4 linked regions of the Homo sapiens genome follow. The protein of the gene in region 1 purifies or fractionates together with the protein of each later gene. This does not show direct contact. Each region holds a gene or a part of one and is shown in the gene's direction. Other genes may lie near its edges.

Region 1 (6,845 bases):
TATATTTCAAAAGAGCATTTTTTTTTTTTTTTTTGAGATGGAGTTTTGCTCTTCTTGCCCAGGCTGGAATGCAATGGTGTGATCTTGGCTCACTGCAACCTCCGCCTCCCGGGTTCAAGCGATTCTCCTGCCTCAGCCTCCTGCTAGCTTGGATTACAGGCATGCACCACCATGCCTGGCTAATTTTGCATTTTTAATAGAGATGGGGTTTCTCCATGTTGGTCAGGCTGGTCTTGAACTCCCAGCCTCAGGTGATCTGCCCGCCTCAGCCTCCCAAAATGTTGGGATTACAGGCGTGAGCCATCGCGCCCGACCAAAAGAGCATTTCTAACTAAAATATTCGTAATTCAGAATTAGTTTACCCCCAAAATCAGTATTGTATATAGTATTTAGATTCTTAGATTAGCCAACAAAATTCTGCCTCAAACATTTCTCCCATAAATTAAAATACTAGTAATTTAATGAACCAAATCAAAACAAAGACTCCAATCCTACCTTCTTGAGCGCTGGCATTTGAGGGAAAGCACTCATTCATTCAGTAACTGTTTATCGAGTGCCCACTCAGCCTGGGTCTGCTGATGTCTCTTTCTTTAATGGAAGCCTTCCCCACCCCCACCCCGGAAAAAATACCATCTGTTTGTGGCCAGGTGAGGGTGGGGTTTGGAGGGTAAGGAATGGAAGGGTTGCTGGAGCCTGTCTGCAGATCCTGTGTGGATTAGGGAGCACCTGGAACAGCCGCCTTTTGTCCCAGCTGTGGGTGGCAGCTGCAGGGCTCAGGTGGTATCTGTGGAGGGCCTGCTGCCAGTCCCAGGGCAGGAGTGCCCTCATAGCTCAGCTTCAGTGCTGGGCATGGCCGGCGGTGAATGATCTGGACCTCCTGAGGGCAGGCAGGTTGCTTTGGTGTGGAGCCAGGTGTTTTGCAGAAAGTGCTTTAAGGTGTAAAATGAGAGTTTCCATGGAAGAAAAGGGACACTTGGACCTGGATTCTGGCTGAGAGATTTCCTGGGTGAGCGGAGAATTTGAAAGTGGTGACACAGAACTGGGTCCATTGAGTGCAGTAATGTGATAGGATTTGTTTCCCCCGACTTTGGGAGTGGCTTTATTTTGTCATGGAGCACACCTGGTTTGGCACTGTCCTGCCCGGGCAGTGAGGCCTGACGGGACATGACCGAAGTTTGGCTGTGTTTGGGTGTGTGGCACAACAAGGACAAACTGCTCTGATCCCCAGCAGTGAGTCAGGGACAGGAGCAGAATCCCGGTCACGTCCTGCCCTGAGCCAGGCTTGCCAGCCCTGGCAGCCTCGCCTGCTGTTACATAAACGGCAGGCCATGAATTCCAGGTGTCGGCACCCCCCTGCATCCAGAGGGCTCACTCCTGCAGCTTCCCTTTCCAAAGCAGCATTATTTAAAAGTTGCTTTCTCCAAGAAAATGGTATTTCTATCGTTGCGATTGCAGCAGTTAGACGATTAATGAAGCATTTTTTCCCTCCAAACATTGAGTGTTCCCAGTTTGGAGTCATTTTGCTTTTCTTTTTGGTTGAATGATGGTGATTTTTTTTTTTTTTTTTTTTTTTAAAGAAACAGGGACTTGCTCTGTCCTCCAGGCTGGAATGTGGTGGCGCAATCATGGCTGACAGCAGCCTTGAACCCCTGGGCTCAACCAATCCTCCCACCTCAGCCTCCTGAGTAGCTGCAACTACAGGCCTGTGCCACCATGCCCAGCTACTTTTAATTTTTTTTTTTTTTGCAGAGATGGAGTCTCACCATCTTGCCCAGGCTGGTCTGGAACTCATGGCCTCAGGTGATCCTTGTTCCCTAGCCTCCCAAAGTGCTGGCATTACAGGCACGATCCACTGTGCCCGGTCCATCCTTAGTTTTCAACATAGATATCAAAAAAGCATTCAGCATGAACCAGTCGAAAGATGATCCTTACTCTGAGAAAGAAAGGCTCACGTTGGAAGCCTGTACTCCTTAGTTAGAACCAAGACTTGATTTTTCTGGTGACAGGAAATTCTTTTTATTGCAGATCTCTCAAAGGCCTTGGTTCTGACAGAAATTGGCCCCAAACGTGACCCTGCGACCCTGAAGCTGTTCCTGAGTAACATGGAGCGGCTGCTGCATGCCAAGGCGCATGGGTAGGAGGTTCAGTTCGGGGAACACCCTGCAGCCCGAGGAGGAAGAACGGAACACGGACTTGCTAAAACTCCCCTGGGATTTGAGGAGGAAGCCTGACGTGGAAAGAGTGGGAGGGGCACATGAACATCAGACTCAGGGAAGCCCTGTGAGGGGCCCGCCTGCAGTAGATACTCCTATAGCCAGGCCTCTGGAGATGCGTGGGCACCTGTGTTGCTTCTGATCAGAATCCATGGAACTGACCTCATGCTGCTCAACCAGCGAATGGTGCAAATACTTACAGTCCTTCCCGAGGGGGCCTGGCGTCAGACAGGTTTATCAAAGCCCAGTGAATCCTCTTTGTCTCTTGCCTTCCCAGTAGGGCTGTGCTGTGAGCCCTAGCCATGTGAGACCACTGACACTTAATGTCACGTTCAGTAGAGGAGGATTCAATTCTCTGGTTGCTGCATCTCAGGTGCTCAGTAGCTAGGTCAGCTGGGAGCTGTCATGGCACAAGGCATTTGCGTCTGGCGGAGGCCTGTTGGTTGGTGGCTCCAGGCCCTATATTCAGCCTCCAGAGCTTTGGCAGAAGTGCTGTGCTTCATTTTTCACTAGGGAAAATGCCCAGCCGGGGTACCTGGCTGAAGTCGGCTTGCACACCACAGAAAAGGCTCCACTCCCGCCTGCATCTGTCCTCCCTTCCCTCTCCCCAGGGTCCGAGTGATTGGAAGCTCCACATTGGCACTCTGCCACCTGGCCTCAGGGGCCGCGGATGCCTATTACCAGTTTGGCCTGCACTGCTGGGATCTGGCGGCTGCCACAGTCATCATCAGAGAAGCAGGCGGCATCGTGATAGACACTTCGGGTGAGCTCTCCTGTCCCTGAAATGCAGCGGCAGAAACTAGACTGAGAGACACTGTGGGTGGGGCACTTCCTGAAGTCCCCACCAACTGAATTTCCCACCTTCCCCAGAGTTTCTGTTTTTTTTTTTTTTTTTTTTTTTTTGAGACGGGGTCTTGGTGTCACACAGGATGGAGTGCAGTGGTACAATCTCGGCTCACTGCAACCATCCTACTCACGGGTTCAAGCAATTCTCCTGCCTCAGCCTCCTGAGTAGCTGTGATTACAGGTGCGTGCTACCATGCCTGGCTAATTTTTTGTATTTTTATTAGAGACGGGGTTTCATGGTGTCAGCCAGGATGCTCTTGATCTCCTGACCTCGTGATCCGCCTGCCTCGGTCTCCCAAAGTGCTGGAATTACAGGCATGAGCCACTATGCCCGACCCCATTCCACATTTTTTCTTTTTTTTTTGACACGGAGTTTCACTCGTCACCCAGGCTGGAGTGCAATGGCATGATCTCGGCTCACTGCAACCTCCGCCTTCCAGGTTCAAGCAATTCTCCTGCCTTGGCCTCCCGAATAGCTGGGACTAAAGGCACTCACCACCATGCCCAGCTAATTTTGTATTTTTAGTAGAGATGGGGTTTTGCCATGTTGGTCAGGCTGGTCTCGAACTCCTGACCTCAGGTGATCCACTCGCCTCGGCCTCCCAAAGTGCTGGGATTACAGGCCTGAGCCACCATGCCCGGCCTCCATTCCATATTTTAAAGCCCCCATCACTCTGATTTTACCACTAGAGCACCTGAAGGCTCACGTATGTGCAAGCAGGTCTCCAGCCCATGCATCCAGAGCTGTTTCATATCCCTCAGGAAGATGCAAGGCTTTATCATCTTGCCCGAGCTTCTTCGAGTGTGGGTCCCGCAGCAGCGGTGCACCCCCAGGAGCTTGTGGGCAGGTAGCCTCAGCCCCACCCAGACCTGTTGAGGCAGAGCCTTGGTTTCACAAGCCCCTGGCTGACCCCTGTGCACAGTCAAGCTTGAGAAGGGCAGCTCCCCTGTTCGGGTCTAGCCCATTGCTTGCATTTCTTAGGACTTTTATGTTCTCCATCTCTTAAGGCAGTGGCAGCTTCAGAGCCGCACTCTGTTCTGTGCAGCCCTTGACTGCATTCACACTGGGGTGGGGCGGGAGAGGCTCCATCCCTCTATTCTTTGCCGAATTCACTCCTAGACCACCTGTTTAATACGAGTGTTGGGGCTTGGGCACGGTTCCATGTGCCATTTCCTGTGCTGTGTGCATGTGGGATAAGTTGTTACACAACATTGTTCAGCCCTCTCTGGTAACCCGGATGCCTGGCTCTCTCTGTCTGTCCCCAGGTGGACCCCTCGACCTCATGGCTTGCAGAGTGGTTGCGGCCAGCACCCGGGAGATGGCGATGCTCATAGCTCAGGCCTTACAGACGATTAACTATGGGCGGGATGATGAGAAGTGACTGCGGCTGAGGCAAAGCTGCTCCCAAGGCCTCCCTGGGCTGCTGTGGGCTCCTGGGGAGGTGGCCCTCGTGGCCCACGCTCCATGCCAGTGGCTCACGCTCTGCTCCTGGCTACCCCAGAGGGAGTTGTCACGCTACAGTGAGTGGCTGGCCTTTTAAATCGACGTCTCTCTCACCAGGATTTGGTGTTTAGCTGTTTCTCTCTTTAATCTCACGTAGCCTTTTTCAGGTTAGTACGTGTTCTTCTGTCAGGGCCAAAACTCAAATCTCCTGTGAAATACGTATTGATAATCCAATCTTGATTTTTCCCCCCAGAATATAAATCTCAGGTAATAAGGCTTTAGAACTGCTGATAAAGCGGATCGTTCTCAGGCCCTCCCCCCGGAGTACTTCAGAATGCAATAAATCAAAATAATGGCCCTGTGTGTATCTGTTTCCTCTATAAGCATGTCGCCTGATTCCCAAACAACTCTGTGGCTCTCATCCACTGCTGTGGATCTATGCTCTCAGGAAGCTTTGCGAATGAAACCCAAAGTCCATGCGAATGAAACCCAAAGTCCATGCGAATGAAACCCAAAGTCCAGTGTGTGCCAGCTGCTGCCTCTGATGAATACCCTGAAGGCGACCCCAGTAATATCATGTGAGTGTTCAGAAGCCAAGACATGGGACAGACAGAAGGAAACTAATCTCTGAAAGCTGTTGTTTCTGTGATCAGCTTTTTTGTTTTTGTTTGAGTTGGGGTCTTGCTCTGTCTCCCAGCCTGGAGTGCAGTGGTGTGATCACAGCTCACTGTAGCCTTGACCTCAGGACTCAAGTGATCTTCCTGCCTTAGCCTTCTGAGTTGGGACCACAGGCATGCACTAGCATGCCAGGCTAATTTTTAAAAATTTTTTGGTAGAGATGGGGTCTCACTGTGTTGCCCAGGCTGGTCTCAAACTCCTGGACTCAAGTGATCCTCTCACCTCAGCCTTCCAAAGTGCTGGGATTGAATCACCACACCTGGCCAATCTGTGATCAGTTTAAAGAGGAGAAACTGGGCCTTACTTGTTTCTCTTTAGGAGGCGGAATGGTATGTAAGAATAATTCTAATGAGGCTATTAACTGGCTGGCCAGACATCTTTCCTGAAGTTTAAGAATGAGAAAGTCTTGGCTGGGTGCGGTGGCTCATGCCTGTAATTCCAGCACTTTGGGGAGCCGAGGCAGGTGGATCACTTGAGGCCAGGAGTTTGAGACCAGCCTGGACAACATAATGAAACCCTATCTCTACTAAAAATACAAAAATTAGCTGGGTATGGTGGCGCATGCCTGTAATTCCAGCTACTTGTGAGGCTGAGGCCCGAGAATCATTTGAACCCGGGAGGTGGAGGTTGCAGTGAGCTGAGATCGCACCCCTGCACTCCAGCCTGGGCGACAGGAGACTCTGTCTCAAAAAAAAAAAGAAGAAAGATTAACTGAATTTAAAAAATAACATATTCCCAGAGGTTCACTGTAGGGTGAGCACTGTGTCCTGCCACGTTTGGAATCGTTTTGTCTTTGAAGAAGTGGAGCCTCTCCCAGGGCTGGCTCGGTGCCCTTGTCTTTCCAGCAACAGCGTTAGTTATAGTCATCTTTGAGACTGGCTTTTCTTTCATCTCTGGAGAGAGCTTGATTCGTCATCTTATTGCTTTGTCTGAACTAATTTTGTTTAGTAGAGCTTTTCAATAAATAGTTTGGATTTTTTAAATGAGTTTAAAATATGCTCATGTTTCTCCAAATTGCTGATTATTCCTTTAGGCCTTCGTTAGCCCATCTTAATTTTCTCAGAATCTACTCAAAACAGATCTGAGTATTTATACAGATGTGCAAGAAATTTCTTACATTCTCATGGATTTTGAGATGTAGTGCTTATTAGTCAAATAATATCTGGAAGTTTTCTTCAACAAAATAACTCTCGCAGCACGTTGAGAGGCTGAGGCAGGATTGAGGCCAGGCATTCCAGATCAGCCTGGGCAGCATAGCAAGACCCCATCTCTACAAAAAAAAACCCAAAACTAGATGGATGTGGTGCACAGCTACTTGGAAGGTTGAAGTGGGAGGATCCTTTGAGCCCAGGAGTTTGAGGTTACAGTGAGCTATGATTGCACCACTGCATTTCCAGCCTAAGCCACAGAATGAGACCCTGTCTCTATAATAAAAGTTTTTAATTAGCCAGGTGTGGTGGTGCGTGCCTGTAGTCCTAGCTGCTTGGGAGGCTCAGGCAGGAGGATGGCTGGAACCCAGGAGGTCGAGGCTGCAGTGAGCCATTATTGTTCCACTGCACTCCAGCCTGGGTGACAGAGCGAGACCCTGTCTCAACAAACAAAACAAACAAAAAAACAAAAAGAAAGAACTGCTCCCCTCCCCAACCTCAGGAAAGGCCCTCCCA
Region 2 (7,909 bases), on another chromosome or scaffold:
TACCAAATGAACAATTTTTACAGCTTCTGAACAAATTTAATGTATAGCCCAAGCAAATTACAGTAATCTAGCCTAGAAGGGCTGAAAACACATATTAGTGTGTCAAGATTTCTGCCAGAAAAAGAAGCACTAGTTTTTGTGTGCATGCGCTTGTGGGGTTTTTTTGTTTTTGTTTTTGTTTTTTTAGTATTAGCAATAAACTGTGTCTCTCAAGAACACTAACGTGAAGACTTCCACACTGCAAACACAGAAATAAACTCAAAGTTAGGAACCCAAAGTTCTCATTCTAACCTTCAGGCTTTGTTTGATGTGTTATAGGTAACTCTGATATTATATTGTGTCAAGGTTTCATATTCTTTAAAAACAAACTTTTATTATGTTTTTTGTTTTATATTAGAAAAAGTAATAAATGCTCATTGTAGTAAATTTAGGAAGTATAAATAAATACAATTGAGAAACTAAAAGTCACCTATAATGCCCAGTCAGACATACCACTGTTCACATTTAGGAATGTATCAAGTTTTTTTCTATGCATATATATGATGGGTATATTTAAAATAAAAAATAAAAATGGCTCATAGAGGATATACTAGCTTGTATCATCTATATCTAGATATAGATTTTTTTTAGAGACGGGGTTTCACTCTGTCGGCCAGGCTGGAGTACAGTGGCACCATCCATAGCTCACTGCAGCCTCAAATTCCTGGGTTCAAGCAATCTTCCCACCTCAGGCTCCTGAGTAGTTAGGACTGCAGGCATGTGCCACCACACCCAGCTAATTTTTTTTTTTTTTTTTTTTTGGTAGAGATGGGGTCTCACTACATTGCCCAGGCTGGCCTTGAACTCCTGGGCTCAAGCAGTCCTCCCGCCTCAGTCTCCCAAAATTGGGATTATGGGTGTGAGCCACTGAACCTGTCTCCTCTTGTTCACTTAATAATAGATCATGAACATCTTTCTATGTTATTATATATGTAAATACTTATGTAATATACATCTCTAAATGTTTTTGCCCATTCATCATTATTATTTCCTCAGAATAAATTCCTAGATTTGTTGGGTCTCATGACTTATAGCTGTTTAAGCCCATTGATACATATGGTCAAATTCCAAGATTCACTGTTACTTGTATTCCAAGATTTACTGTTATTTATTTTCTGCTTTATTCCAGAAAGGATTCAGTATTACTGAGTTTGACATTTAATATCATTGTTGAGTGTGGAATTTTTAAATACACTAAAGTAGTTTTGCCAGTGAGTCACAATGAAACTTTTTTCAATAAGCTTAAGCCATTTCCCTTTAGAATTCTCGAACTTCTAATGTATTCAGTCATTGGCGTGTTAGAGAAGTGAGAGTCAGCAGGATCCCCAGTTATCCTCCAGAGACTGTGTATCCGCAGTGGAAATTGGGTGGCAATATTCCTGTCCTATTGCACTGTGCCTTCTCCTTCTGTGCCAGGCAGCAGTGTTGACAGGCTACCACATGAAACAAATGTTTGTGGAGGCATCCCCAAAGCTATCTAACTCCAGTTATTCTGGATGAAATGTCTCTTCTGTGGTAGCAAGCTGTTGACTGGGTTTTTCAAATCCTGGTTTCCCTATGTAATTTTTGCAAGAAGACTTTAAAAAAAATTCTTGTTCATGCAATACATTCTCTGGGAACCCCAAAGGGCTTGTTAATTTGTTTCTTTCCACACTGACCCCCACCTGGCAATTCTGCCTGTCCCTGATTTGCTCACCTTCCTCAAAGTTTCACCTCAAGTAACTGTCTTAAAAATGAAGACTTCCAGCCCGGTGCAGTGGCTCACACCTGTAATCCCAGCACTTTGGGAGGCTGAGGCGGGCGGATCACCTGAGGTCGGGAGTTCAAGACCAGCCTGACCAACATGGAGAAACCCCATCTCTACTAAAAATACAAAATTAGCCAGGCATGGTGGCGCATGCCTGTAATCCCAGCTACTCGGGAGGCTGAGGCAGGATAATCGCTTGAATCCGGGAGGTGGAGGTTGCGGTGAGCCGAGAGCACAACTCTGCAAAAAAAAAAAAAAAAAAAAGACTTCCGGCTGGGCACAGTGGCGCATGCCTGTAATCCCAGTGCTTTGGAAGGCCAAGGTGGGCGGATCATGAGGTCAGGAGTTTGAGACCAGCCTGACCAATATGGTGAAACCCTGTCTCTACTAAAAATACAAAAAATTAGCCGGGTGTGGTGGCAGGCGCCTGTAATTCCAGCTACTCGGGAGGCTGAGGCAGGAGAATCACTCGAACTTGGGAGGCGGAGGTTGCAGTGAGCCAAGACCATGCCACTGCACTCCAGTCTGGGCAACAGAGCGAGACTCTGTCTCAAAAAAAAAATGAAGACTTCCTTTTCAAGTTCAAGTTCATCATAGTTCCCTATGAAAGCACTTTTTTTTTTTTTGAGATGGAATCTCACTCTGTCGCCCAGGCCAGAGTGCAGTGGCATGATCTCAGCTCACTGCAACCTCTGCCTCCAGGGTTCAAGTGATTCTCTTGCCTCGGCATCCTGAGTAGCTGGGACTCCAGGCATGCGCCAACACGCCTGGCTAATTTTTGTATTTTTAGTAGAGACGGTGTTTCACCATATTGACCAGGCTGATCTCGAACTCCTGACCTCCTGATCCATCCGCCTCGGCCTCCCAGAGTGCTGGGATTACAGGCGTGAGCTACGCACCCAGCCTGAAAGCACAATTTTAACTGACCACTTGTTTGTTTCCATCAGTGTCTGCAACTGAGGGCTCCACCTCCCTACTGGGCTGATATATTCGAGTTACAAACCCAGCCTCCCCCATAGCATCCTCAGTTCTGCTCTTTTTCCTGATTAATCCCTGTAGGAAATTTATTTTGAGCTGCTCTTGAAGAATCTAATCCTCTAGATTTGTAGCTTTTGCCTCTTTAAATTTAGCTTGTGTTCTTTCCTGTTGAGTCTTCAGATTCAGCTTTTTTTTTGTTGTTAGTTACATGAAATGTCCTGTTAAATTTTACCATCCTGAAGATTCATGGGCATGTGATGTGTGTTGGTTAATTAGAGCTATTCTCATTTGGAGTTATCCTCAGTAATTATATATGTATATATGTTCATTGTAGAAAAACATTGTGTTAGCCTGACATTATTAACACTGACTCCACAACCTGGATGAAACAAGCATGTATAAATATGTTTCTGTATTCTCTGTCACAACAAATCATTTTCAGCATTACCAGTATCACATATGGCAGAGTACTTTAGAATTAATAAAAAACATAGCTATTAAATGTAACTTTGTCAGAATTATGATCCCAAAGTTTAATAAAACTTGATGTTTTTGTCCCTGTTTCAGGGTTTCAACATCAAAAGTGTACAATCACAAGGTTTTAAACTGAATGTATGGGACATTGGTGGACAGAGGAAAATCAGACCATACTGGAAGAATTATTTTGAAAATACCGATATTCTTGTAAGTACTCCTTCTGACGCACTAATTCATAGTATTTTCTGCCATGTGTTAGAAACATGGACACTGTAACATTCTTTCTTGTCAGTAATTCCACCACCATAACATTAATCACTGTGAATTTAGCAGGGATAGCAGAAGGCTACAGATTATAAAGGAAAAACATCTTTGTATAACTTGTATAAGATGTTTTGCTGTCGCTCAGTAACAATGTTGTACCCACACCCATCTTGGCAAAATAAAGTGTTATTAATTGCCATAGTGATTTGAATAGCAGAAGGGAAGTCAGAAGATCATGCCACTGACTGTCACCCCTAGGAAGACAACGAATCAAGTGTATTGCAAAGAGAGCAAGCAAAATAGTGAAAGTACTGGAAACCATGATGTGTAAGGAGTGGTTGAAAGACCTGAGAATGTTATTCCTGGAAAAGAGAACACTGGGAACTGTCTAGGCTGCTTCAAGAATTATCTTAAGTCAGAGGGATTGAATAGTTCTAGAGGGCTGAGCCAAGAGCAAGATGGGGAATGTTAGGTGGTAGAATGTAATTCAGATTAAGGAAGAAGTTTCCTATAATTACAATCGTCCAGTAGTAGGAGAAGCTGCCTCGTGCATTGGGAATACCCTGACTCAGGGAGCGTTCATTCAAGTGGAGGCCGAGATTTTAGCTCCCAGCTCGCTGTCACTTCCTTTAGGACCATCACAGTTTCAGAATTCTTGGAGATTTCACTGTCCACTTACATGATTTCCACAAAACCTCAGCCTCTCAGTTCCTTCACCAGCCCTCCTTCAATGGTCTTGTCATCTACTCTACCTCAGCCACATACTTGCATAATCATACCCTAAAACTAGGGGGGCTCATGAACTTAGATGGGAGAAAAATTGCATGTCGCTTTTACTAACCTCTAACCAAAAGTTTGCGTTTACATCAATTATGATGAAAGGCAATAAACTGCAATAATAGCAGCCATATCTATGTCTTTATTACGAATAGAAATCATCTAGACCAGGTGTGGTGGCTCATGCCTGTAATCTCAGCAGTTTGGGGTGGCTGAGGTGGGAGGATCGCTTGAGCCCAGGAGGCGGAGGTTGCAGTGAGCCCAGATTGAGATCAGGCCACCACACTCCAGCCTGGAAGACAGAGTGATACTCTGTCTCAAGACAAGAAAAAAAAAAAGAAATCATCTTGCATCTCAAACAGCTTCACCTTCTGCTGTTGTTTCCTAAGTGTCTCTCTCCTCTGGATCATTCCCATCAACATAAACATATCCTGTAGCTTCTCTTGCTTAATGAAGAAAAAATAAGCCCCAGAAAACTCCTCCTGACCATACATCCCCCTCCAATACTGTCCCATTCCTCAGCCTCCCTTTATAGCAAAACTCCTTGAAAGAGTTTGTTATGCTCTCTGTCTTTGCTTTATCTCCTCCTAGTTACTCTTGAGCCTTCTTTTCAGGGTCACTGATAATTCCACATTGCTAAAAGTAGGGTTCAGTTTTCAGTACTCATCTCACTTGACCTATCAGGCCATTTAACATTGGTCATGCTCTCTTTGAAACATTGTCTTTTCTTGGCTTCCAAGACACCATTCTATCTTGGTTTTCCTCCTCACTGGCTACTCCTCCTAAATCTCCATTGCTATTTTTTTTTAATCTCCCAACCTCCAAATGTTAGAGAGCCCCGGAGTCCTTGTGTTTTTCTTCTCTGAGTCACTGCTTAGGTGACCTCGTCTAATTTGAAGGATTTAATGACCACTTAGATGCTTATGAATCTCAAACTATCATCTCTAGCCTGGAATTCTCCCCTGAACTTGAGTTTCATATACAGTCATGTGCCACATAATGACACTTGGGTCAGTGACTGACCTCATAAATGATAGTGGTCCCTTAAGATTATAATAGAGCTGCCGGGCGCAGCGGCTCACGCCTGTAATCCCAGCACTTTGGGAGGCCAAGGCAGGTGGATCACGAGGTCAGGAATTCAAGACTAGCCTGGCCAAGATGGTGAAACTGCATCTCTACTAAAAATATGAAAATTAGCTGGGCATGGTGGTGGATGCCTGTAATCCCAGCTACTCAGGAGGCTGAGGAAGAGAATTGCTTGAACCCAGGAGGTGGAGATTGCGGTGAGCCAAGATTGCGCCACTGCACTCCAGCCTGGGCAACACAGCGAGACTCTCTTTCTCAAAAAAAAAAAAAAATTATAATAAAGCTGAAAAATTTATATTACCTAGTGACATAGCTGTCATAACACATTACCTTTTATATGTTTAGATCCATAAATACTTACCATTGTTTTACAGTTGCCTGCAGTATTCGATACAGTAACTTCGTGTACAGGTTTGTAGCCTGGGGCAATAGGCTATGCCATACAGCCTAGGTGTGCAGTAGACCATCTAGGTGTGTGTAAGTACACTGTATGATGTTGGCACCATGTCAGAATTGCCTAATAATGCATTTCTCAGAACATGCCCCTGTCATTAAGCAACACATGACTATATAAGCCAGCTGCCTATTTGACATCTCCACTTCAGCGGCTGGTAAGTCCCTCAGCCTCAACATGTCTAAAACCAAATTCCTGTTTTCATCCTGTTCTACTCAACCCTACTCTTCCCACAGTCTTCTCAGTAAATGGGAGTCCCATTCCTCCGGAAACAATGCAATCATCCTTGGCTCCCTCTCCTCACTCCCCTCATCTGATCTATCAGCAGATTCTTTGTACCTATTGCCATCAGACGTATTTTTATTTATTAGCTTTCTCTTGCACTGTAAGGTAAGCTCCGTGAGGACAGGAATTTTTGCATTTTAAAAAACTGTTGGCCGGGTGCGGTGGCTCACGCCTGTAATCCCAGCACTTTGGGAGGCTGAGGCGGGTGGATCACAAGGTCAGGAGTTCAAGACCAGCCTGGCCAAGATGGTGAAACCCCATCTCTACTAAAAATACAAAAAATTAGCCAGGCGTGGTGGTGGGCGCCTGTAATCCCAGCTATTTGGGAGGCTGAGGCAGAGAATTGCTTGAATCAGGGAGGTGCAGGTTGCAGTGAGCCAAGATTGCGCCACTGCTCTCCAGCTTTGGCGACAGACCAAGACTCCGTCTCAAAAAAAAAAAAAAAATGTTGGCCAGGCTCTGTGGCTAACGCTTGTAATCCCAGCACTTTGGGAGGCCGAGGTGGGTGGATCACGAGGTCAGGAGATCGAGACCATCCTGGCTAACACGGTGAAACCCCGTCTCTACTAAAAAATACAAAAAAATAGCCGGGCATGGTGGCGGGCGCCTGTAGTCCTAGCTGCTCGGGAGGCTGAGGCAGGAGAATGGCATGAACCTGGGAGGCGGAGCTTGCAGTGAGCCAAGATTGCACCACTGCACTCCAGCCTGGGTGACAGAGTGAGACTCTGTCTGAATAAAAAATAAAATAAGGCCGGGCATGGTGGTCACTCCAGCCTGGGCAACAAGAGTGAGACTCTCTCTAAGATAAGATGAGATAAGATAAGGTGAGGTAAGATAAAATTCTTTTAATTCAGAAAAAAACAAAAAAATAAAAATAATTAAAAATATTTTAAATCAGGCCTGGTGCGATGGCTCATTCCTGTAATCCCAGCACTTTGGGAGGCCGAGGCAAGTGGATCACTTAAGGTCAGGAGTTCGAGACCAGCTTGACCAACATGGAGAAACCCCGTCTCTACTAAAAATACAAAATTAGCTGGGCGTGGCGGCACATGCCCGTAAGCTACTCAGGTGGAAAATCGCTTAAACCCGGAAGGTGGAGGTTGCGGTGAGCCAAGATCATGGCATTGCATTCCAGCCAGGGCAACAAGAGTCTCAAAACAAAAAACAAGTCTCAAAAACAAAAAAAAAATTTTAAATCAACAAGGAAACACTTAGAACTAATAAGTGATCATACCAAGGCTGCAGGATATAAGGTTAATATGTACAAGTCGGTTGCTTTCCTTTATATCAGCAGTGAACAATTGAAATTTGAAATTAATAGCAAAATACCATTTAGCACCCCCAAAATGAAACACTTAGGCATAAATCTAACAAAATACATTCAGGACCTACTTGAAGAAACCTGCAAAACTCATAAAGAAGATCTAGGTAAATAAAGAGACAGTCCGTGCTCATGGATAGGAAAACTCAGTATTATTAAGATGTCAGTTATACCCAACTTGATTTATAGATTTAATAGAATCCCAATCAAAATCACAGCAAGTTACTTTGGGGATATTGACAAACTGATTCTAATGTTTATATGGAAAAGCAAAAGATTTAGATGGCTAACATAGTACTGAAAAGGAACAAGTTAGAGGACTGACACTACCTGACATCAAGATTCTCTGTAAAGCAAGTAAACAAGACAGCATAGGCCGGGCGCAGTGGCTCACGCCCGCACTCCCAACACTTTGGGAGGCTGAGGCAGGCAGATCACCTGAGGTCAGGAGTTCAAGAGCAGCCTGGCCAATGGGGTGAAA
Region 3 (8,484 bases), on another chromosome or scaffold:
CACCATCACTATTGTAGAACCTAAGATTAGCCTTTTGAGATATCTTTTCAGGTTTTTTTGCATGTCTGACACCTGGCTCCACCTGGACCTACCAACTGCTCCTGCGGCCCCACCTGGAAGCAAATCCGCGCAAGAAGACAGCTTCAACTCCCTGTGATTTCATCTCCAACCCAACCAATCAGCAGCAAGCATCCATTGCCTAGCCACCTCTGCTCCTACCCCTAAACTGTCTTTGAAACTACTCCTCAGAGACTGATTTGAGTAATTATAAAACTCCAGTCTTCCTTTCAGCCAGCTCTGCATGAATTAAACTGTTTCCCCATTGCAATTCCCCTGCCTTCATAAATTGGCTGGCTCTATCTGGGCAGCAGGCAAAAAGAACCCATTGGGGGATTACATAGCCACTCCTCATCGGAGAAATTTCTACTGGCTCTTCTTCCAGCCTCAACTCTCTTTGGCTAATCTTTCTCTATATGTAGCCTTCACTTCTTTTCATCTTTCTCTCTTCTTTCCTCTCCTAGGAGCAAAACAAAATTTCTCCTGGGCCGCACAGTTTGGCAATTATCTTTTGTTGCCTTGGCTGCAGCTACTATGCCATCAGCTCCCAACTCCTAACTTCAATGAACCAAGGAGGTATTTTTCTTAAACAAAGACCACTCCAACCCTGAAGATTGGAATTTCGCCACTGCCTGTAAGGATAACAAGCTTTAATCTGGTTTCTACATGTGGTTTTTGTTTATTTTGTTCCTGTGATTATAAACTGTAATGAAAAAAGAAAATGTTACTGTAATACTTGATATCATGTATTTATCCATGTATCCAACCTTCTTTCCATCCTATCCATCAATCCATCTTATATTCTGGATACTTTTTTTTTTTTTAAGAGACATGGTCTCACTATATTGTCCAGGCTGGTCTCAAACTTCTAGGCTCAATCAATCATCCCACCTTGGTCTCCCAAAGAGCTGGATTACAGGCATAGGTCACTGTGCCAGCATCTGGATACATTTCAAAGAAAATTGTATACATTGGTACACCTTCCCCTAAACACTTTAATATGAATATCATTAACTAGAGGTGACATTTTATTTATATTTTTTCCTTTTGAAGTCATATTAGCGTATTATAAAATGCACAATTTTTTTGTGCGTGTGTGAGATGGGGTCTTACTCTGTCACCCAGGCTGGAGTGCAGTGGCACCATCTTGGCTCACTGCAACCTCCACCTCCTGGGTTCAAGCGATTCTCATGCCTTAGCCTCCCGAGTAGTTAAGACCACAAGCAAGTGCCACCACACCCAGCTAATTTTTGTATTTTTGTAGAAATGGGGTTTCACTATGTTGGCCAGGCTGGTCTCAAACCCCCGACCTCAAGTAATCTGCCCACCTCGGCCTCCCAAAGTGCTGGGATTACAGGTGTGAGCCACCTTGCGCCCTGGGCTGTAGTGTTATTTTTGTGGCAAAAAAATTGAAACCCTAAAATTCTGACTGCAGTGGAAGGGTAAGTGTATTTCAAGCCCTAGTGATACAGACCAACTTGGAAGCTTCAGACAGGAAAAGTTTGCTAGATAGTTATTTATTTTTAACTAAGCATGTACTTTTATGTATCTCCCATATGGCATGGAACACCTGCTCACTGCAGCCTGGAGCTCCTGGGCTCAAGTGATCCTCCCACCTCAGCCTTCTGAGTAGCTTGGACAGCAGGCGCGTGTCACCACATCAGTTAATTTTTGTTATTTTTTGTAGAGAGGGGGTCTCAATATGTTGCCCAGGCATTATGGATTTTATGCATTCGGGACCATCCCATGCTTAAAGCATGACAGAACCCGGCGGCATATTTTTCTCTGCCGCAGCTTTCAGTGCAGGGGCACCTCACAGGCAGGGCGGGGTCAAGGCTCTGTCCAGACAATGGCTGCAGAGTAAAAAGCACTTCCATTTATGGGGGTCAAGGGCGAGGGGAGGGAGAAAGGAGCAGGGAAAGAGGAGAAGTGGCCACATGTACTTTGATTTGTTTTTTGCTTTTTGTTACATGTACTTTTGAAGCAGTATTTAGAAGTAGCCTCTCCTACAGCCCCTGCTGTAGCTTGTCTCCTAGCTGTGAGGTGAGTTATTCAGTACCCTCTAACGTAAAAATGACCTTCAGACAGACAGACAGACACACACACACACACACACACACACACAGAGGAAAACAGCTCTGTCATCCACTTTTTCTTCCTTTCCCGTCCCCAGACCCTCGATTCTCTCTTTAAAATGACTGCTGTGAAGATAACGTAACACAGAGTAATACTAATGACAAATTATCAAAAAAGAAAAAAAAAATAAAAATCTTTATTAGTGTTTTTTAAAATGACGTAAAAGACTATGGGAAAAAATGCCAACAATAGTTATGTATAACTTTTTTGTTCATATTTCCAAAACGTTTATAACATACATAACTTTAAAAGAAAAATAATTTAAAAAATACATATCTGAAAATGAAACCCCGCTGTTTGCCAACGACCAGCTGGCTTAATCTGACTTCGCAGATGTAGCAGTGTTGGAAAACGTCGGTTCTTTTGCTGAGGGAAGGAAGAGATGGGAGGGGTAGAAAGGGCGGTGGTTATTCCCTTTAGTATTTCGATCCGGTCACACAACCTAAATCCAACATCTGCATCAAATGTCTCCTTTCCGAAATACTCTCCCTAAAATGACAGAGAACCTGGCCAGGCGGACAGAACGGCCCCTGCGCATTTGCAGGGGTCCTGGTGGGCTTGCCGGGCAGAGGGCGTGCGGGTCTCAGCAAGCTGCCGGGTCCGCCCAGGCCCCGCCCCATGCCCATTCAGGCCCCGCCCCCGACCCGCAGGCCCCGCCCCCGACCCGCCCCGTCCGCCTCCGTCACGTGATGGGGCGCCGGGTCCAGCCTGTTGCTGATGCTGCCGTGCGGTACTTGTCATGGAGCTGGCACTGCGGCGCTCTCCCGTCCCGCGGTGGTTGCTGCTGCTGCCGCTGCTGCTGGGCCTGAACGCAGGTAGGTTCAAGCAAGAGGCGCACCAGCTGCCATGCCTCTTTTTTCTCCAGGCGTGAGAGTTTGTTACTGGGTTTGTGCTTTTGAAAACATGTCTCTTTTCCCCGGTTCTTACCTTGTGTAATTATATTGCTTTTGAATCTCACTCTTTTTTTTTTTTTTCCTTAAAAAATTCAAAGTGCTTTTTTTGTCCTTTTCTGGCTCTGGGTGGTCTGAGTGCTTCCGTTCTCTCCTACGCCTAGATAGAAGCTGTGTGCAGAAATGTATGATTTGGGGAAACTGCTGGTCAATGAGGTTTCCCCGATTCAAAGGCCATGATTGGCTGCTAAATGAGGATATAAGGTCGTTTTATTTTAAGCTGAAATCTGCGGTCAAAAGTACCCTTACATCCTACCACGAATGGGACATTTCATTGAGATAAGGCCCTTTCTTTTCTTGATCAAAACAAACAAGATAACATCTTCCCCCACAGCGATCTTTTTTGGCAAAAAACAGATTTGTGTTTAATAGGATGACTTGCAAATTGATTTTCAGCAAAACCTCTCCTAGTCTGAAGCAAGCACTGAGAATTGGAACTGGCCACAAGCTTGCCTTGTGACCTTAGGCAAGTTGTTGAACAGTTTTGTTTTCCTTTTCTAAAATGGGGATCATCTGGCCCTTAGGCGAGTGTCTGGGAGATTTTGTAAAATAAGTAGCTCTGCCAATTTTACCAGTAGTCACTGCCAGGCAAGGGAGAAGTGCCTGGGGTTAGGTCAAAAGGTACCTGCGCCTTATCTGTCATTCTCAAGGGAGCGCAGCCTTATCTGTTATTGTCAAGGACAATATAATCGTGTGTTACTTGTATATAGAACCTTATAGCTAAGTCTGTAATGTTTTAGTCATCTGTTTTGCTCCTCAGGACACTTTCTGGTTTTCTTAATCTTCATTGTTGTTTTGTTTTGAGTCAGGGTCTCACTATGTTGCCCAGGCTGGTCTGGAACTGCCTGACTCAAGTGATCTTCCTACTTCAGCATCCCAAGTAGCCCGGACTGCAGACACAGGCCACCACCCTGGCTCTTTCTTATTTACAAGACGTTGTCTCATTGTCTTCCTCTCTACTCCTGTCTCTTTAGCTGTTGGGACCAGTGTTCTTTTACTGACCAATGGGGCTTGAAATTTGAGAAGGGAGGAAATAGAAGGCAGAAAACTCCAGTCACCGAGGGGATCCCCCCCATCATCTTTTAACAACAGCCCCTCTACTTTTTTTTTTCCCAGAGTGGTTTTGGAGGAAAAAAAAAAAGATGCTATAACTTGGAAATTGTTACGTTAGCAAAAAGTGACAAAGAAAATGTATTTAGCCTACTCTTTTCTAAAACATATTTTGTGGATGCTAGAAAAGTTAAGTAAGGAAAATTGGAGTTAGGGGATTATAGGATACGTATATTAAACACACATACACAGATATATATCGTTCAGTTTAAAAAAATCATCTACATGAGTTAGGAAAATTGCCCTTTTTCATATTTGTTGTAGCTCTTTCCTTGCTGTTTGCCTTTTTATTTTTGATTTACAGAAATTTTGTTGTATAGAAATATAACAAGTTTCTGTTCTCACCTCCATCATTGTTTCTTTTGTACAGTCTCTGGGGTTTGCTTAGATTCTTTCCTCATCCAGACATTAGAAATATATTTAACTATATTTTTGTATTTTTTTAATGTTTAAAGTTTAAAATTTAATTGCTTGATCCTCATGGAACTTATTTCGTTTATAGTGTTGAGAGGACCTAAATTTCTCTTTTTTTCTCCAAAAAAGGTAATTGTTGCTCCATTACTGTATATTGAATATTCTCAGCCCCACTAATTTGTGATGCCTCTTCACTCATGTTTTTTGTTTGTTTGGTTGGTTGGTTTTTTGTTTTTTTGAGATAGGATCTCCCTCTGTCACCTAGGCTGGAGTGCACTGGTGTGATCACAGCTCACTGCAGCCTCAACCTACTGGGCTCAAGCGATTCTCCTACCTCTGTCTCCTGAGTAGCTGGGACCACAGGCATATGCCACAATGCCCAGCTAATTTTTGCATTTTTTGTAGAGATGGGGTGTTGCTATGTTGCTTAGACTGGTTTTGAACTCCTATGCACAAGCTATCAGCCTGTCTTGGCCTTCCAAAGTGTTGGGATTACAGGAGTGAGCCACCAAGCCTGGTGTCTTACTCATGTATTAAATACGATATAAAAACCAGTATATTGCATTCTGAGATTTTTACTTTTTTACTCAAAATATAAATCTCTCTTGTTTTTACAGAATTATAAAAGTATTTCCTGTAATCCCAGCACTTTGGTAGGCCTAGGCGGGCAGATCACCTGAGGTCAGGAGTGCGAGACCAGCCTGACCAACATGGAGAAACCCCATCTCTACTAAAAATACAAAATTAGCCAGGCGTGGTGGTGCATGCCTGTAATCCTAGCTACTTGGAAGGCTGAGGCAGGAGAATCGCTTGAACCCGGAAGGCAGAGGTTGCGGTGAGCCGAGATTGCGCCATTGCATTCCAGCCTGGGCAACAAGAGCGAGACTTCGTATCAAAAAAAAAAAAAAAAAAAAAAAAGTGTTTCATATTTATTGTTAAAAATCCAAACATTACAGAAAAGTGTAGAGGAAAAAGTGAAAGCCCCTGGCCTCCTATGCCGCTGTTAAGTTTGGTTTCTTTTTTCATAGCCGAGGTTTTTTCCTTATTCCTGCAATGTACTGGGGTGGCTAAATTACCAAACTATAAAACAAATCATCTCTAGCCTAGCATGGCTGTCTCTACCAGGCTTGGAATTTACCTGTACATTAGGCACTCTTCTGGAGAGTGAAATTGAACTTCTGTTTCAGGAGCTGTCATTGACTGGCCCACAGAGGAGGGCAAGGAAGTATGGGATTATGTGACGGTCCGCAAGGATGCCTACATGTTCTGGTGGCTCTATTATGCCACCAACTCCTGCAAGAACTTCTCAGAACTGCCCCTGGTCATGTGGCTTCAGGTAAAGTAGCTTCCCAGCCTGGCCTGAGGTCAAAGCCAAGTCTCCTCTGTGTGGCTCTTTGCTTGCTTTTTGGGCTGATGTCTCAGCAGTGAAGGGCGGATTTGGTCCAGCAGTGTGACCTGGGGGTTCGGCGTGCTTCTGAGGTAGGCTGAGGCAATGGTATAGCCAAGGAGGCTAAATCAGAGGGCGAGGGGGTTCTAGCCTTTTGCCAGAGTCTCTTTATATTTCCAGACGGTCACAAGAAGGCTCACTGAAAACTCCTGATGATACATTTGAATACATAGTGATAGAAAGTGTTTTGAGGCCGGGCACAGTGGCTCATGTCTGTAATCCCAGAACTTTGGGAGGCCGAGGTGGGTGGATCATACGAGGCCAGGAGTTCGAGACCAGGCTGGCCGACATAGTGAAACGCTGTCTCTACTAAAAATATTTAATACAAAAATTATCCAGGCATGGTAGCACATACCTATAATCCCAGCTACTCAGATGGTTGAGGCATGAGAATTGCTTGGACCCGGGAGGCGGAGGTAGCAGTGAGCTGAGATCGTGCCACTGCGCTCCAGCCTGGGCGACAGAGCAAGACCCTATCTCAAAAGAAAAAAGAAAAGAAAGTGTTATGGAAGGTTCCAAAGCAAAGACCTGAGGTAGCCTGACCCTCCCTTCCTCTCCATACAATCCTTTCCTGAACCCTAACTTCTTACCCCCAGAAAACCTGATCTTTTGAAGGGACTGCTACAAGCCTTCTGCACCTTCGTGTGACTGTTGCGCCTTCCCCCTTTCCCTGAGTGTGTTTGCATTTTAACCTTGAGCTCTGATTGTAGGATGGAAGGCAGGGAGCTGGTTGAAAGATTTGTAGGGACAGGCAGAGGCTCTTTTCTGGCATTTCTGAAATATCTGTCCAGAGATGGCCCACCCCCACCCGGAAGACCACCCACCAGGGAGGAATTAAGGAACATGGTCTTGCCTCTGGAAAATGTAGGCATGGCCCAGCTGGAACCCTGGGCCCCTCATCAGTAAATAGGGACCCTGGTGCTCACCTCCATAGGATGCTACTGGGACGTCTTCCAACAATGCTGGTATTTATAAGCAGCCTCCCACCACCTGGGTTTTGCCTCCCAGGATGGTCGATGCAGACTTTCTGGTGAGATAGAGCGAAAATGAGCAGTTTTCAGGGAGGGGCCTTTCTCTTTTGGAATTATCACTTGTGCCACCTCTGAGGGCTAGAGCTGAGGCTCAGCCCCAGGTGCGGTTATGATAATGCAGAAAAAGAACCCTTGTATGTCAGCCTGGGGAGCCCTGTTCACCTCCGGTGGCTGGAGACAAAGGTGCGGCACAATTGGCAGGGAGAGCCAGGCCGTGGACAAGCTCAGGCCTGCCGTCAGGGGCCTCGGGTTTTCAGTGCCTACCTGCCACTTAGAGCCATGGCAAGATACTTCCTCCTCTGGGCCTTGGCTGTCTAATCTGGGAGATTTTGGTGGTTTTCAAACTTTTTGTTCATCAGCAGAACTTTTCTTTTTTTTTTTTACCCCCAAATGAAAGCTTACAAAGGGGAGACAAAGCAGACAAAAGCACAAGTGCTGAGGCTGAGGCTTCTCCTTTGAAGTTTATCAACTGAAGAGAATAAATTGCTCTTCACTTACCCAGAGACCCAAGAGAGAAGAAGAAAGATTATGCTTACAGAAGAAATAACTAATTTAGATGAAAAGGAGATCTATTTTAGCAGCCTACTGAGGACATGGTGCTGACTTCTCTCGGGGGAATCTTTGAGAATCGAAGTCATGTCTTCTGAGTGGGTTAGCAAACTATGTTAGGGACACTTTCAAGTCTTCGAAGCGTTTCACTTGGTCCACTGACACACTGACTGTGTCTCAGAGTTTCTGGATAGCCCTGGGCCATGCTAGCACCCTATCCCAAAGTTCTAGACAAAAAAGAGGTTTTACAATAGGATATATTCACGTAGAACAGAGGCTTCCTCCATCCAGCATCTCATTGCCTTTTGAGGAGAGGGGAATGAGGAGAGAGGAGAGGGAGAGGTCATCTTCTGCTGTCTCCCTGGCATACCAGAAGCAGAGGAGAACTGAGATTTCTCCCACAAAGACCCAACCCCTAGGATTTCCAGCTTTTCTCCTTTTGCTTTGATCCTACCTCATCCTAATAAGTCCATTAGGAAAAAGGAACCCAGCTTTCATTGGAGGGTAGATCCCTGGCTTTAATTTATTGCATATTGCATTATAAATATTTTTCAATGTTGCCACATCATTTTTCGTAGTTCATGATTCTAAGTGGCAGTGTAGCATTCCATGCAGTAGATGTGGTATGGTTGCCTAACCTGTTCCCCTATTTGGGGGACGTTTGAGTTGCACCCTTACTTCTGTTATTTTTAATAGGACTGCGGTTAACATCTTCATCTGGTTTGTGAACTTTTTACTGCTTAGGAAATCTTAAGATACAAAGGGCATATGATCAGGGGGATGTATAGCC
Region 4 (7,597 bases), on another chromosome or scaffold:
AGTGAGCAGGAGATTGCGCCACTGCACTCCAGCCTGGGCGACAGAGCGAGACTCCGTCTCAAAAAAAAGAAGAAAAATTTAAGAAATATAAAAAGTGGAAGATAAAGCATCTTTCTGATGTTTGCATTTTTCCTCATAAAGTAGATGGTGACGTTTTCTTCTGCTGCCTCTCTTAGATATACCCTCAATGTCCTGGAAGATCTTGGAGATGGTCAGAAAGCCAATGACGACATCATTGTGAACTGGGTGAACAGAACGTTGAGTGAAGCTGGAAAATCAACTTCCATTCAGAGTTTTAAGGTCAGAATCCATATTTGACTATTAAATATTATGTTTGCTGGATAACATCTATCATTTGGGAAGGCAACTTTTGGCTTCTTTGTGAGTGAGAATTAGTGTTGGGCTAATGGCACAATTCTTTACGAATTCACTGGGCTTTGTTTTTGGCACTTGATATAAGTAAGCACATGTTAATTTGTATGTATCAAAATTCTCAGATTTGTTCTCCTTTCACACTAGGACAAGACGATCAGCTCCAGTTTGGCAGTTGTGGATTTAATTGATGCCATCCAGCCAGGCTGTATAAACTATGACCTTGTGAAGAGTGGCAATCTAACAGAAGATGACAAGCACAATAATGCCAAGTAAGGGAGACTGCTAATAGTATGAAAAGAACGCAGCTTTGTAGCTGGACAGATCTGAATTCTAATTCAGGTTCTGCCATTTAAGAGTGGTGTCACCTTGGGAGAAACCTCTTGGAGCCTCAGATTCCTCATCAATAAACTGGGGGCAATAATACTTACCTTAGATTTTATAAAGATTAAATTTTTAAAAATTATAAGAGCCTAGCCTTGTGCTTGGCCTACTAGGTGCTTAGTCGGTTGTTGCTTCAGTGGATTACAGAAATAATGTAGCATGTATTTTAATGCAAATCAGGTAAAACTTTACAAGGAAAATAAGAGCTTAGGGTGTTCATCTGTCTGTCTCATTCTTTTTTTAAAAAACGCATTATCCACTTATGTCTCTTTTACTATACATAGATCATTCTTACTACATTTATTGAATTTATCTTCATCAGTTCCCATATTAACAGAATGCTTGCTAGCCCTCCACAGAAGACTATGCCTTGAAAGTTTCTTGCATTTCAACAATATTCAGAAGGTCTTTTCCACCAGCCTATTTTCTTCTTCACCAAAGGCCTAGAGTGTGACCTGGCTTCATGGGTGACCCATGAAAACCTTACTAGTTAGACATTGAAAATCCATCCACAGTCCTGCATTACCGAACAGCTAAGAAGCATTCCTGCAAAACTTTGGAGTTAGGCACATTATTTCTTTTTTCCTTGAAAAATATTTCTAGCAGATATGACAAAGGTCTAATATCCACAATATATCAAGAACTCTTGAAATCTCTTTTTCTAGAAACTCGATGATTTAATTATCTTTAAAGATTCTGGTTCCAACACACCTAGAAATACTTCACGGATTAGTTGAGATGTGTTCCTGAAAATTTCCCTACCTGGACATCTCAGTTCTTCTGTCCCTTCGTCTACCTTTTCTAGTTTTTGGTCCAGCCACTCTGTCCACGTACCACGTAGACTGTCTCCCCTCTCATGAATACTTGGAAGTATTCATTGCATCTGCCTAACAACTTGGGTTTTGCATCTAGCATGATTTTCCACCTCATATCTCTAAGATGACTTGAGTGTGTGTTATTATGTGTGCAATGAGAATATTAACATGGATTGTATAGACAGCCTAGGTAATTATATATATAAAGTTGGTGCTTCAAGCTTAATTCTCACCTCACATTGGAGAAAAAGAGTGAATAAATATTATTAGCCCCAAATAATAGAGCTTAAAAACCTACTGTAACTTCAAAGTGAAATCAAAACCCAAATCAAAAGAAAACAAAAAGCAAAACTGTTCTAATTGGAACTATCAATATGGAATTTTTGCATCCCAGCATAATAATTATATATGAGGAAATAGATGTCTTACGTGGTGTCCTTAACTGACAAGAATTTCATCCTGATTTTGTTTCCCCCTAAAATAGGTATGCAGTGTCAATGGCTAGAAGAATCGGAGCCAGAGTGTATGCTCTCCCTGAAGACCTTGTGGAAGTAAAGCCCAAGATGGTCATGACTGTGTTTGCATGTTTGATGGGCAGGGGAATGAAGAGAGTGTAAAATAACCAATCTGAATAAAACAGCCATGCTCCCAGGTGCATGATTCGCAGGTCAGCTATTTCCAGGTGAAGTGCTTATGGCTTAAGGAACTCTTGGCCATTCAAAGGACTTTTCATTTTGATTAACAGGACTAGCTTATCATGAGAGCCCTCAGGGGAAAGGGTTTAAGAAAAACAACTCCTCTTTCCCATAGTCAGAGTTGAATTTGTCAGGCACGCCTGAAATGTGCTCATAGCCAAAACATTTTACTCTCTCCTCCTAGAATGCTGCCCTTGACATTTCCCATTGCTGTATGTTATTTCTTGCTCTGTTATCTTTTGCCCTCTTAGAATGTCCCTCTCTTGGGACTTGCTTAGATGATGGGATATGAATATTATTAGACAGTAATTTTGCTTTCCATCCAGTATGCTAGTTCTTATTCGAGAACTATGGTCAGAGCGTATTTGGATATGAGTATCCTTTGCTTATCTTTGTAGTACTGAAAATTTGCCGAAGTAACTGGCTGTGCAGAATGTAATAGAAGCTTTTCTTATTCTTTTATTCTTAAGATCAGTATCTTTTTACAGTATTCTTTCTACATGATCCTTTTTTGTACATTTAAGAATATTTTGATTATATTAAACAAGACTGCTGATTTTGCTACTTTTTTTAAGGGGTCTTCAAGTAAGTAAAACATACATCGTAGCTAGAAGAAAAATGTACCTTAAATTTGCATCTTCCCTCTCATACCCAAGCTGTAAACAATTGAAATATTTTGTCTTAAATCACTTGGTTCAATACATGCTTATTTGTTTTAAAACCTGTATCATCAAACTCTCTCTCTAAATTTAAAATGCTGTTGAATATGATACTTTTGAGGAGAGAGTGTGCTCAGAACTTAGACGGGATTTGGTAGGCCAAGTATGCTAAGTGTACAATATATTTTTTAATTTTACACCTGAAACAAAGAAATGTGGTCACTAAAAATAAAAGTATATATGTAGGAATTAATGTACTCTTGCTTTGTCAAGCTGTTTGCTATAGTTTCCAAGGTATTATGTTACTCTAACTCTGAAAAGTGATGTAATCTGGTAGCAATGTAGTAGTTCAAATAAAGGCATTTACATAATAATTAGTCTGTTCTTCATGCTTTTGTCTCTTAGGAAGTATGCCAATGTTTGTCAGGATTTTTTTCTTTTTGTTTTTCTGATGTATTCTGTAAAATGGTGTTTGTTAAATTTGAGTTTTGGGAGCTGAATTAGAGGTACTGAATTAAGGACAGTACAAATGAAGTAAAAAGGTTTTCTCCAATTTACCAAAATTTCTTTATCCAGTTCCTGCTTTTTTCTTTCTTTTCCACCTCCCTCAGTCTTTTCAATGTTCTATGATATACATATCCTGAAACAGTGGGGATCTGAACAGTCACAGAGGAGAAATGGTTCATAGTAGATCTTCTCAATCTCATCCATATATGACATTTTTGGCTGGATAACTCTGTTGGGGTGGGGAGAAGGGGCTACCCTGTGCATTGTAGGAGGTTTAGCAGTATTACCGGCCTCTACCCACTAGATGTCAGCACATGCCCGGTGGTGTTGACCAAAATTGTCTCCAGACATAACCAAATGTCTCCTGGGTGGCAAAATCATCCCTTGTGGACAATCAGTGCCCATTTAAGCCTTTGTGTGAATGAGTAATATAAGGTGTAGTCTACTGAGGATTTGGTTACATAGAGATACTATATAATACTTTGCATTTATAATCTGAGAGATGGAAAGGCCTTTTTAAATATCACCTGAATTCCAAAGACATAAAATTAAAAAAGGATATATTTGACAACTCTACTTTTGCAAATATATATGTATAATAAAAAAGATCAAAATATAGATAACTAAAAAAGTGAGTTCAGTCTCAGATTATAGATTCTTTTAATATAAAAATAGGATTTATGAGTGAAAAAAAGACAAATCTGCAAACATACTAGGGTAACTGATGAAGTAAGGACAATTACATCTTAAGACCTGTCTTATGCCTTGAATCTGCCATACTCATTCACGTTCATCTTCGTCGAAGTACAAAGGTTCTTCTCTGTAAGCCCTAACGCCTTGAAGTGCCTCTTTAACAAGATAGGAAAGATATATTACATGTGGCCCTTTCTTCAAAAAAGGAGCTGATTTCTTGGGTGGTTCACTATACAGGGCCCACAGCCTGTAGGAGTGTACCATGGGATAGTTAAGTGTTCATATAAAGCAGTGGACCTGACACACAATTTTTTTCCTCCAAAAACTAATTTCAACAAATAAGAATGTGGACCAAAATTAGCAACACATTCAGAATTCTGCTGGGCGTGGTAGCTCATAACTGTAATCCCAGCAATTTGGAAGGCTGAGGCAGGTGGACTGCCTGAGCTCAGGAGCTCAAGATCAGCCTGGGCAACACGGTGAATCCCCATCTCTACCAACATGGTGAATCCCCCATCTTTTCCCCACACACCTGTAACTTCAGCACTTTGGGAGGCTGAAGTAGGAGGATTTCTTGAGGCCAGGAGTTTGAGACCAGCCTGGACAACACGGGGAGACTCCGTCTGTATAATAAAGTTAGCTAAGCATGAGGCTGGGTGCGGTGGCTCAAGCTTGTAATCCCAACACTTTGGGAGACCAAGGTGGGTGGATCACCTGAGGTGAGGAGTTTGAGACCAGCCTGGGCAACATAGTGAAACCCCATCTCTACAAAAATACAAAAATTAGCCAGGCATGGTGGTGGACACCATAATGTGTCCCACCAGCTACTCGGGAGGCTTAGGCAGGAGAATCACTTGAACACTGCGGGCAGAAGTTGATGTGAGCCGAGATTGCGCCACTGCATTCCAGCCTGGGTGAAAGAGCTAAACTCCATCTCGAAAAAAAAAAAAATTAGCTGAGCATGGTGGTGCATACCTGTGGTCTCAGCTACTTGGGAAGCTTAGGCAGGAGAATCACTTAGTTCAGTTGATCAAGGCTGCAGTGAGTTGTGATAGAACCATTGCATCCTAAACTGGGCTGCAAGACTCCATCTCTTAAAGAAAATAAAGATGATATTCCCCCTCTATCCTAATATGCTGAGAGATTGATTTTTTAAATTTTTGTCATGAATGGGTGGGTAGATTTTATCAAATGCTTTTTCTGCATCAATTTATATCATCATAAAATTTTCTTCTTTACCCTATTGATACGGTGGATTACATTGATTAGTTTCCAAAGATTAAACAAACCTTGCATGCCTGAATAAATCCCACTTGGTCAGTGTATAATTCTTATTCATTGTTGAATTTTATTTGCTAATATTTTATTGAGGATTTTTGCATCTAAGCTCAGAATGACGTTAATTTTTATTTAAATGTTTGGTGCAAGTCTCCAGTAAAAGTGTCCAAACCTGGAGATATTTCTTTAATGGTTATGGGGCTATTCAGATTATCTATTTAATCTTGATTGCGTTTTGGGTGGCTTTTGAATTTTGAGGAATTTGTTCACTTCTTCCATGTTGCTGAATTTGTGACCATAAAGTTTTCGTAGTATTTCCTTAATTATCTTTTTAATAGCTGCAGGATATGTAATGATATCTTCAGTTTGATTCCTCACAGTGGTGATTTATGTCTTCTCTCTTTTTAACCTTTGTCAGTCTTGCTAGAAGTTTATCAATTTCATTACTTTTTTTAAGAACTAGCTTTTTGTTTCTTTGTTTTTGTTTTTCTATTTTATTGATGTATGGTTTTATCTTTATGATTTCCATCTTTCTGCTTTCTTTGAATGTGTTCTGCTCTTTTTTTGTTGTTGTTGTTGTAGCATCTGTCCAAGACAACCGTAAAAAGCCACTAACCTCAATAAACTACCCATACAGAATTATCTATTTCTCCTTTCAGCCATATCAGTTTTATTTTGTTTTTTGTTGTTGTTGTTGAGACAGAGTCTCACTGTGTTGCCCAGGCTGGAGTGCAATGGCGTTGGCTTGCGGCAACCGCCTTTTCCGGGTTCAAGCAATTCTCCTGCCTCAGCCTTCTCAGTAGCTGTGATTACAGGTGCCCACCACCACTCCCTGCTAATTTTTTTTTTTTCTATTTTTAGTAGATACAGAATTTCACCATGTTGGCCAGGCTGGTCTCGAACTCCTGACCTCAGGTGATCCACCAGCCTTGGACTCCCAAAGTGCTGGGATTATAGGCATGAGCCACCATGTCCGGCCACACCCTGCTCAGTTTTTATGTATTTTGAGACTGTGTTGTTTGGTGCTTACACATTTAGGGTCACCATTTCTTTTTAGCTAATTGATCTTTTTCTGATTACATAATGTCACTCCTAGTCCCCAGTAATTTTCTTTGCTCTGTATTCTACTTTATGTGATATTAATATAGCCTAGCCATTCCTGCTTTTTAATGTTTACATAATTGTCATTTTCTATTCTTTTATTTTCGAGCTGCATTCATTATGCTTGAAGTGAGTTTCATGTAGATTGCATATCGTTGGGTCATGTGTTTTTATCTGTGTTTTAATTTTTTGCTTGTTTGTTTGTTTTGAGATGGAGTTTTACTCTTGTCGCCCAGACTGGAGTGCAGTGGCGCGAGCTCAGCTCACTGCAACCTCCGCCTCCTGGGTTCAAGTGATTCTCCCACCTCAGCCTCCTGAGTAGCTGAGATTACAGGCATGTGCCACCATGCCCGGCTAATTTTGTATTTTTAGTGGAGATGGGGTTTTACCATGTTGGCCAGGCTGGTCTCGAACTCCTGACCTCAGGTGGTCCACCCGCCTCAGCCTCCCAAAGTGCTGGGATTTCACAGGCATGAGCCACTGCACCCGGCCATTCCTTTTTTTTTTTTTTTTTTTTTTTTTTGAGATGGAGTCTCCTCTGTTGCCCAGTCTGGAGTGAAGTGGTGTAATCTCGGCTGACTGCAACCTCCGCCTCCCAGCTTCAAGCGATTTTCCTGCCTCAGCCCACCACGCTCAGGTAATTTTTGTATTTTTAGTAGAGATGGGGTTTCACCATGTTGGGCAGGCTGGTCTCGAACTCCTGACCCCAGCCTCCCAAAGTGCTGAGATTACAGGTGTGAGCCACCATGCCCGGCTGTTAGCCACTGCACCCGGCCTTAATTATTAATAGTTAGACATTATTTACTTTGAAAGTAATTATTGATATGTTAAGGCATAAGTGTGCCATTTTATTATTTAGTTTATGTTTGCTTGCTCCACTTTTTGTCCTTCTGTTCCCTGCCTCTTATCTTTTGATGAGTCACTTGAACGTTTTTTAAAATTCCATTTTGATATGTCAATAGTGTTCTTGAATATAGTTCTCTTTTTATTTTTATTTTTTGAGACAGTCTTGCTCTGTCATCCAGGCTGGAGAGCAGTGGCACTATCACGGCACCACTGCAGTCTCAACCTCCTCCCGAGCTCAAGTGATCCT

Evidence for each region.
Region 2: the proteins of IMPA2 (region 1) and ARL3 fractionate together in Homo sapiens (co-fractionation; one large-scale study listed by BioGRID). This does not show direct contact.
Region 3: the proteins of IMPA2 (region 1) and SCPEP1 fractionate together in Homo sapiens (co-fractionation; one large-scale study listed by BioGRID). This does not show direct contact.
Region 4: the proteins of IMPA2 (region 1) and PLS3 purify together in Homo sapiens (affinity purification with mass spectrometry; one large-scale study listed by BioGRID and IntAct). This does not show direct contact.

What each region holds. Positions count from the first base shown.
Region 1 is NC_000018.10:12,026,018-12,032,862, forward strand, and holds the end of IMPA2 (inositol monophosphatase 2), read left to right. Parts: intron 1-2,025; coding exon 2,026-2,134; intron 2,135-2,824; coding exon 2,825-2,976; intron 2,977-4,325; coding exon 4,326-4,441; 3' UTR 4,442-4,860; downstream 4,861-6,845. UniProt on the Homo sapiens protein: Phosphatase that can use myo-inositol monophosphates, myo-inositol 1,4-diphosphate, scyllo-inositol-1,4-diphosphate, glucose-1-phosphate, beta-glycerophosphate and 2'-AMP as substrates in vitro.
Region 2 is NC_000010.11:102,694,912-102,702,820, reverse strand, and holds part of ARL3 (ADP-ribosylation factor-like protein 3), read left to right. Parts: intron 1-3,331; coding exon 3,332-3,448; intron 3,449-7,909. UniProt on the Homo sapiens protein: Small GTP-binding protein which cycles between an inactive GDP-bound and an active GTP-bound form, and the rate of cycling is regulated by guanine nucleotide exchange factors (GEF) and GTPase-activating proteins (GAP).
Region 3 is NC_000017.11:56,975,228-56,983,711, forward strand, and holds the start of SCPEP1 (retinoid-inducible serine carboxypeptidase precursor), read left to right. Parts: upstream 1-2,903; 5' UTR 2,904-2,932; coding exon 2,933-3,008; intron 3,009-5,854; coding exon 5,855-6,003; intron 6,004-8,484. UniProt on the Homo sapiens protein: May be involved in vascular wall and kidney homeostasis.
Region 4 is NC_000023.11:115,647,374-115,654,970, forward strand, and holds the end of PLS3 (plastin-3), read left to right. Parts: intron 1-176; coding exon 177-300; intron 301-519; coding exon 520-644; intron 645-2,055; coding exon 2,056-2,188; 3' UTR 2,189-3,488; downstream 3,489-7,597. UniProt on the Homo sapiens protein: Actin-bundling protein.